Linked DNA regions of Homo sapiens: region 2 is linked to region 1. A link means that fine-mapping ties the variant in region 1 to the expression of a gene that starts in the linked region. Tissue or cell type: whole blood. Region 1 holds a variant in brackets; the other region holds the start of a gene. All regions are shown on one strand. Distances are from middle to middle.

Evidence for each region. PIP is the estimated chance that this variant, and not a neighbour inherited with it, causes the effect.
Region 2: it holds the start of AKR1B1, and the variant in region 1 is fine-mapped to the expression of AKR1B1 in whole blood (TOPMed, PIP above 0.99). The same link has a PIP of 0.9 or more in blood mononuclear cells.

Annotation. Positions count from the first base shown.
Region 1 is chr7:134,494,609-134,499,229 of GRCh38, reverse strand. No RefSeq gene overlaps it. Among named protein-coding and RNA genes, the nearest start is that of AKR1B10, 31 kb to the left of the region's middle. The variant C/T (reference allele first, on the strand shown) is at 2,270.
Region 2 is chr7:134,456,876-134,461,496 of GRCh38, reverse strand. AKR1B1 (aldo-keto reductase family 1 member B) reads left to right here and starts at 2,397. Exons shown (of 10, transcript NM_001628.4): 1 at 2,397-2,500. The coding sequence starts at 2,435. RefSeq lists a silencer at 2,598-2,787.

The DNA of each region.
Region 1 (4,621 bases):
AAAAGAAGTGAGATTGCTCTTCACTCTATCTTTTGTCCTTTCTATAAGCACTGAGTAAGTAGGCCATTATTATTATTACTATTTCATCTTTCTTTTTTTAATATAACATTAAATTTTTACTGGCTTACTTGCTTTAAAATGTCATATTCACATTCTTTATTCCAAGAACGGGAGAAGATAGAAGAAAGTTTTACCACCTTTGATTTGAGGGAAGACTTAAAATGTGATAGGCTGAAATTTGGGGATAAACCCAAGGTCTGAATGACAGTTGGGGTTTGACGAATACTGTACAAACAGAATGGCAGAGACTTAATCCTTGGAGAAACTCTATAAAAAGAAATAAGGTTTTTGGGACAAGTAATTAAGTAAGAAACAATAGCATGAAAAATAGAATGACAAACTGAGAAAGCTGATATTCTCACTGCCCTTGGCTCCAGTAAGATCCTTCCCAAAGAAATTATCTTCTTGCTATGTGTGCCAGGACCATGAAAATCCAGACAAATGAGAAGATTAAAAATCATATCAGATGGAGAACAGTGAAAACAACAGGAAATGATTTGTTTGCAGAATAAACAACTGGGTGAGATATGATATTGTCTTCAGAATTTGAAGGACTGTCATGAAACTTTTATGACAGCACTAAGACCAGAAAGAGGATGGTTCCAAGAGTTCTATGTGGCATGGAATAAAGACATGATGATTAAGATTGCCTGACAAATTGACAAGCTGCCTCCCAAATCCATGCACTCACTTAGAATGAAAGTATCTGGGAGCTGTATTAGTCAATTTTCACACTGCTGATGAAGACATATCCAAGACTGCTCAATTTACAAAAGAAAGAGTTTTAATGGACTTACAGTTCCATATGGCTGGGGAGGCTTCACAATCATGGCAGAAGGTGAAAGGCACGTCTTACATGGCAGCAGATGAGAAAAGAGCTTGTGTAGGGACTCCCCTTTTTAAAACCATCAGCTTTCATGAGACTTATTTACTATCATGAAAATAGCACAGGAAAGACCTGACTCCAGGATTCAATTACCTCCCACTGGGCCCCTCCCACAGCACATGGGAATTCAACGTGAGATTTGGGTGGGGACACAGCCAAACCATATCAAGAGCTAAGTGATAAGAACTTATGAACACAAAGAAGGAAACAACAGACAATGGGATCTACTTGAGCAGGGAGGGTAGGAGGAGGGAGAGGAGCAGAAAAGATAACTATTGGGTACTGAGCTTAAACCTGGGTGATGAAATAATATGTACAACAAACCCCCATGGCATGTGTTTACCTATGTAACAAACCTTTACATGTACCCCCAAAGCTAAAATAAAAGTTTTAAAAAAACGTTTAAAGTAGTACTAATAATATTGGTTCAAGAATATTGAGATTAACTACTACCTGAAGAGTCCTATTATATTCACGTATTGTATATAAATGATCATATTCATCTATTTACATGTAAAAACACAAAAGTTGGCATCAAACAATACAAGGTTAATTATTACTGTAGATCTGAAAGTAGAAAAAAACAGAATGGAATTATTTGTTCCTAGGTTGAGTGACCAACTATTAGAGATGCTGTGGATGATTCCTCATTGAATGAGGAATATCAGTGGAACTTTACGGCAGTGGTCAGACTTCTGGGTCTCATGACTGCTTTATACTCTTAAAAATTATTGAGGCCAGGTGCGGTGGCTCATGCCTGTAATCTCAGCACTTTGGGAGGCCAAGGCGGGTGGATCACAAGGTTAAGAGATCAAGACCATCCTGGCTAACATGGTGAAACACGTCTCTACTAAAAATACAAAAATTACTTGGGCTTGGTGGCACATGCCTGTAGTCCCAGCTACGGGGGAGGCTGAGGCAGGAGAATCGCTTGAACCTGGGAGGCAGAGGTTGCAGTGAGCCAAGATTGCACCACTTCACTCCAGCCTGGGAGACAGAGCGAGACTCCACCTCAAAAAAAAAATTACTGAAGACCCCAAGGAACTTTTGTTTAATATGGGTTATATATCAATATTTACCATACTGAAAACTAAAACTCAGAAATTTAAAAAATATTTATGTATTAATAATTTTTTAAAATAATAAACATTATATGTTATACAAATAACATTTTATGAAAATACAACTATATTTTCTAAAACAAAAATTTAGTGAGAAGAATGGCACTACTTTGCGTTTTTATAAAACTCATTAATGTATGACTTAATAGAAGACAGCTGATTTTCATACCTTCTTTATTCACTCTATTGGAATATCACACAC[C/T]ATGTGGCCTCTGGAAACTCCACTATACACTTGTGAGAGAATGAGAATAAAAAAAAAACGCTTTTAGTATCATTACAAAAATGGTTTTAGTCTCCTGAATCCCTCTGAGAGCATCTCTAGATCCCAGATACACTTCAACCCTTTGTAGTCTGATAGCATCAACCCAATTTATCAACCTAATAATACTGCATTAATAAGCCACACTCTCCCCTTTCAGGACATGGTTAAGAGGACTCTACTTGGGTACAAAGCATAGACATGTGAATTCATCAGAATCTAAAAGTATCATTCTACTTTCTCTTTTTTTTTTTTGCCATAGTCAAGATTCATTAATCTTCAACTAGAAGTTCAGTACTCTTTTTTGTTTGTTTTTTCAATAGAGATAGAGTCTTGCTCTATTGGTAGGCTGGTCTCAAACTCCTGGCTTCCAACACTCTCAGAGTGCTGGGATTACAGGTGTGAGCCACCACACCCAGCTAAAAGTCTGATACTCTTCACAGCATCATATTATTTATCTGCAAATAAACTATCTTGAAAAGATTATAATGGGTCATGTCAAAGTTGATATATCTATGAGGAAGTTTACATTTGAGGTTGCCCAAAAATAATTTCTTGATTCATAAATCTAGAAGCAAAGGGGAGATTTTCAACCTCCAAGTAATTTTTACTTTTTTCTTGGTTCTACATAAGCTTTATCATAATTATGTCACTGACATGTTGGAATAAATACAAAGTTAATTACAATTGAAAAAGAAGAACACTGCAACATAAACTAAATTATTTTAACTAAATTTGAACTTACGTGGTTGACATTGTTTCACAATTGTGTAAGTTCAAATTTAGTTTAGATCTGTCTAGTTGTTTAGTGTTTAGACCTTTACAAAGGCCAGATAACTAAACAAATCCTTTTCTCTACTTTTTAGTACTGTTATTTTTAGATTACTTAGATTAACCTCAAAACAAACCCAGTTTATAGCATAGTCCACAGCCTGTAATTAGATAACAATTACAATATTGGTTTAGCAAAAGTGGAAGCCATCTAATCATTTTCCAAAACAATTTAATTCCTAAACTCATTTTGCTTTTCATCATTTGTTGCCAACAATTTCCTACTTTGTCAGTTTCTATATATCTCTCATGTTCTTTTCATACCTAGTGCTTGGTATTGCCCTTCTATGTAGAAGTTAAGTTTATGTTAAAGATCAGATAGGTCTGTTTTAACTTCCTGAATTTCTGCTTCTTGTATTCCTGAAATGACTAGGGCAGTTATTTGTAGATTTTCTAAGGCAGTTACTTGCAGATTATGTCTTTTATCTCTGTGGAAATAATAGACATAATAATTTCAATCAATAATTGAAATAATTCCAATTGCTACAAATATTCATAGCGCTTTTCTTAGGTGATATTTATCTAGTGGAGATAAATTTGGTAAAATGAGCTTTTTGTCATATCCTTGTCCCTTTTTGTCATATCCTTGTCCCTCAAATTGTATGCATTGTGGTTGGACATATGTGACTTTAAATTGTTCTATTTTGAAAAATATTTTACTCTCCTAGGTGTTGGTTTGTAAATTAATTTTAATAAGTTAATGAGAATGTGTTTCAATAAATTTGATTTTAATAATTTAGGTGGAGAGTTTGTTATGCCTTTGGTCCACTGTGGTTTCCAATGGTGTGTTCATAAGCAATGTGTGTCACTCCAGGATCCTCTGTCAATTATGCATAGTCCAGAGTTACAGAGTTTAACAGAGCATTTTGCAAAAGAAGTGTCTTTAGCTACAAATATAGGTAAGTGGGAGTCTAGTCTTGTTATGGTTTGGTAAATAGGATGTTGGACTGACCATGTAACTTTATTCCATGATCCATTAGATGGCTAGATCGTGGAGAAAAAGTAATTTGACATACCTGGGTTTATTTTTATGACTTTCTTCATATTTATTTTGGTTCCTAGTGTTTCCCACCAATTGATTTAAATTATGTATTGTTGTTTATATCATCCTGAATTTCCAATGGACACATTGGAAAAATAACTTGATTTTGTACATATTTGGTTTTGCTGGTAAATTTGTTTAATATAATCATATTTCTTGGTTCATTTCCTGTAGAGAATGTGCTAATAATCTCTGTTGTTTCGTATGTGGATATAAATGGTCCAAGTACTAAAGGTGACTTAGATAATAGCAAATTGTAGTTATCTGGTCTGTGAGTACATGTGAATATTAATTGTTCCCATTTTATTTGTCATAATTTATCAAAAATACTCATTTCCAATGATGTCCAGGACCATCCAGGATTTCTAGAAGATGTTGACTTCCAAAAGTCAGTAAATTTAGCAGGTATTTTGTATGTTGCT
Region 2 (4,621 bases), 38 kb after region 1:
TGACTTTGTTTTCTACTTTCACCTTAACATTACCTCATATACATTTTTCTCTGTGTCTTTGTCATCTTTACTTTTGATGGCTACACCTTATCTCTTGCTATTGTTGGATATTTACAGTTTTACTTTAAGTATACAGCATTTTAAAAATACATACGCATATGTGTATATCTGTGTGCAGGCCTGGGACTAAGGGAAGGCAAGTGCCAAGGACATAAATGTAAAAAAGCTCCTACCTTCTGGCATGAAAATTTGTACCTGTGTACCTCATTTGTCTTACCTTGGTCCCAGCCCAGCCCTATACCTAGTGTGTGTGTGTGTGTGTGTGTGTGTGTGTGTGTGTGTGTGTGTGTGTGTTTTCCTTTTAAATTATTTCCTTAGGAAAAATTCCCATGATGGGAGATTACTGGTTCAGAGCATGTTAAGATTCCAATTACTAGAGTGTTTCTCAGGAGGATTCCATTGAAGGTTTTTTTCCCTTTTTCAAACAAAATTTTGATATGTATACTTATCAAAAGATGGGAGATCAAAAATCTTGAGATCAAAAATTTTGGTATGTGTACATTTTACAAAGATTACAGAGGCAATGGGGGATGTTAGGGGGCTATCACAATAGCATGTCCCAACTAGAGTGCTATTGTTGCTATAGAAATTCCACTGATACAACTTTTCATGTCTGCATGGCCCAGCCAAAATATTCTGGGTTTATTTATTTATTTTACAGACAGGGTCTTGCTATGTTGTCCAGGCTGGTCTCTAACTCCTGGGCTCAAGCAGTCATCCCACCTCAGCCTCCTGAGAAGCTGAGACTACAGGTATCACTCCAGCTTTAGACACAGTTATAACTTCATGCAATCAAGCTGTATACTCAATTATTATCAAACCAACAACAAAGCCTCTGATATTGAGTCCATGTCCCTAACAGACGACCCTTCTGTGTGTACCAACCTGGCCACTCAAGGTGTATCATTTTCACAAGAGATTAGCTCTTTGGATTTGGACCCAGGAGGTTCAATTGGCAGAGCAACCTCCAAGTCAAGAGGACTCTCATGGAGGAAGGAACTTGCTGTTTTACACAAAGCAAGTTCCCAGCTTTAGGCTCAAGTTCAAATTCTATTACTTGGGGACAAATGAATTTGCCCAATAGCAACAATTTTTACAAAAGTTACATGGAAAAATATCTGGGCTAGTCTGTTCTGTATAAATTTTTCCAGGAGGGAGCACTTTTAAAGAAAGCACCAAATGGAAAATCACCGGCATGGAGTTTAGAGAGACCTGGTGCTTGAGTCACTACCAGGCAGATGGAGTTCCCAATCTTGCATAATTAGGGGAAAGATCGGAGGGTGATGGAGCAGAAAGAGCAGTTGGGGTGAGGTAGAGTATCATGAAGAGAGGTTGTTGGAAAGAAACCAAAATTGTCTTCAAGGATCTTCAAGTGACTTTTCTTAGGCTATCTTGGAAAAATGTGTGTTTCTACCTGCCAATTAGGGTGATCAATTTACTATTTTGTACCTTCTAATTTGAAATACTGGAAGCTACAATATTAGAGTCAACTTTTTCTTCTGTGGTTTTCTGTCTGTTCACTTTTCTTCCTCTAGAGAGTTTTGATAAGTTACTGTACTGGAACTTACTGCTTTGATAGAGTCTCACTTTCCAAAGACTGATGAAATTTGTCTTACTGATTCTGAATGGACAGCCTTACTTTCCAAATTCTTCTGAGAGTTCTGGATCAAGCCCATCAAGGCTTTCTAACCTCAAGAACATCAAAGGATGCTGGCTTTTGGTGGAAGGCTTGCTGAACCACACCTAGTATGCACAGACACAGCTAACACCTAGAGTGGGGTGCAAAGAGAGATCTAGAAGGCTACAAAAAGTCTGGGCAAACCCATATTTTGTGAAGGTGCTTTGCAAAAGGATTGCAAGCCATTTTTCTGGCATGCACCTTTGTCTAAGAACAAAGTGCGGTAAACTATATGTGTAGTCAGTATGATTCACATAGATTAAGGACAAGGTATTCGTCAGATTCCCAAAGAGCATCAAACTGGGGTTGGACAACAAAGGCATTCTTCTGGGCTCTTAATGAAACCAAAACTTATTTCTAGTCTATGTATTTATGGGATGCCTGTTATTTTCGCTAAAGCATTCGCTTTCCCACCAGATACAGCAGCTGAGGAACTCCTTTCTGCCACGCGGGGCGCGGGCGAGCGTTGGGGGCGGAAAGAATCCGCTGCCACTAGGACCAGGCGGAAGAAGCATCCCCGCCGACCCTTGGGGAAGGCCGCCGCGGCACCCCCAGCGCAACCAATCAGAAGGCTCCTTCGCGCAGCGGCGCGCCAACCGCAGGCGCCCTTTCTGCCGACCTCACGGGCTATTTAAAGGTACGCGCCGCGGCCAAGGCCGCACCGTACTGGGCGGGGGTCTGGGGAGCGCAGCAGCCATGGCAAGCCGTCTCCTGCTCAACAACGGCGCCAAGATGCCCATCCTGGGGTTGGGTACCTGGAAGGTAGGTGCTCGTGGGGGCGCGGGCCCGGGGCTCGCCTCACACTCTCCGCGCGGCCTGTATTGGCGAGGGACCCCGAGTGACCCTGAGCAGCTCGCCCCGCGGACGCCCGGCGTGCTGGGAGCCACGCGCGGGCTTGCAGGGTCCCCAGCGGGCTGGGGTCGGCCTTGCAGAGACCGGGGGCCTTGGCTCCCCGGGTTGGCCCTGGGCGTCAGGGCAGCATCCTGCGAGTGGGGTTTGGGAGCAGCTCACGGGAGCCCCCGCCCTACCGCGGGCAACCCTTGATGGGCGGCCCACCAGTCCGCATTTTGGGTCCTAGCGGGCGCCCCAAGCGGCACAACGCGAGAGGGAGGCGGGGAAAGTGGGCTTCACAGACCGGTGGACCTCGGGCGCAGACAGGGACGTGGAGCCGTCGGCAAGGTGTGGGAGCGCAGACCCAGCCTCCTTTCCCTCGAGGCACCTGTAGCCCGGTTGCCTCACTTGTAAATAGTTGGTCTCAATCGTTTCGATTCTTGCCCTCCCTGAGGAATAAGCATCTCAAGCCGGTAGAGGGCAGAGAATTAGGTGGCGCGAGTTTGCCCGGACCCAGCTGTTAACAAGGCGCAGTGCGGAGCTCCTCGGCCAGGCGCCGCCTCGGGGTGCCCTGGGTCTGGAACTCGGGAGAAAAATCTGGGCACCCCGTAGCTAGTTGATAATTCAGGAGGCGCCAAGGTTAGCATTTTCCCTGTAAAACCTCAACACCACACAGCGTCCCCGAGAAGTGCCTAGCCGGATGAGAATGACAATAGGACATGAAACATCATAGGATATGAAAAATGATAATATGATATGAAAAACCAAAAATAATAGCCTGAGCCTGATTATCTGAAAATTGAGCAACAAAGGTGGTGGTATGGGAGCTGAGGCAAAACCTAGAATTTTTAACCTTCTAAGTATTGCATATTATATTCCACAGCCATAACCTGGGTTTCTCAGTTTCTGTTTTTGTTGTTTGCTTGTTTGTTTGTGACAGGGTCTCGTTGCCCAAGCTGGGGTGCAGTGGCACAATCATGGTTCATTGCAGCCTGGAACTCCTGGGCTCAAGTGATCCTCCTGCCTCAGCACTGCGGGTAGCTGGGACTACAGGCGCTCACCACCACACCTGGCTAATCTTTTTTCTTCCCCGCAGAGACAGTCTCCGCTTGTTGCTTAGGGTGATCTCCAATTCCTGGGCTCAAAGCGCTCCTCCCACCTCGCCTCCCAAAGCTACAGGTGTGAACCATCTGGCAGGCCCACGTCCCAGGTTTTTCTCTTAAAATTTGAATATGGGCCTGGGCGTTGGATATTTACACACAGACAAGGGAAGAAAACAACAGAAAGAACTGAGTGAACTGTGAGATGTTTGAAATAGGACAGAAGAGTTTACATGTACCCTAAAACCTGCTGTTGAAAATTAGTAAATATAAGGTAAGAAAAAGGTCATTTGCATCAGGGAGAGTGTTTCTTGGCCAGAATGATCAGGGTACGTGATTTGTTTCCTCCAAAAACTCCAGTGGTGTCTCTAAGGTTGTAATTGAATTACAACCATGACACCAAGCTAATTTCCATCTGTTGCATGTTATGCTCTTGGAATGGATGCAGAAGGATGCTTTCTTGGCAATAGCAAATACTTTCTAAGCATGATGCAACGCACAGATATATACATGTAACTGGAATAAAAATTACTTAACAGTACTTAACCTATGTAGGCTGCATTTCAATATTTTTTTCTATTCCATTTTTCCAAAAATTATTGTCATACCTCCAGAAGCTAGTTTTGTGACCCATCATTTGAAAATCACTACTCTAGGGTAAATAAGGAGTAAAAGTTTATTTTTTTTTTTTTGAGACAGGGGCTCAGTGTCACCCAGGCTGGAGTGCAGTGGCATGATCATGATTCACTGTAGCCTTAACCTCTTGGGCTCAAGTGGTCCTCATACCTCAGCCTCCCAAGTAGCTGGGACCACAGGTGTGTGCCACCACACTCGGGTAGTTTGTTTTTAATTTTTTGTAGAGACAGGTTTCCCTATGTTGTCCAGGCTGAGGAGTAAAAGTTTATGAAAGAGGGTTTCAGATTATTCACTTGAGCACTCAATGCCCCAAAAA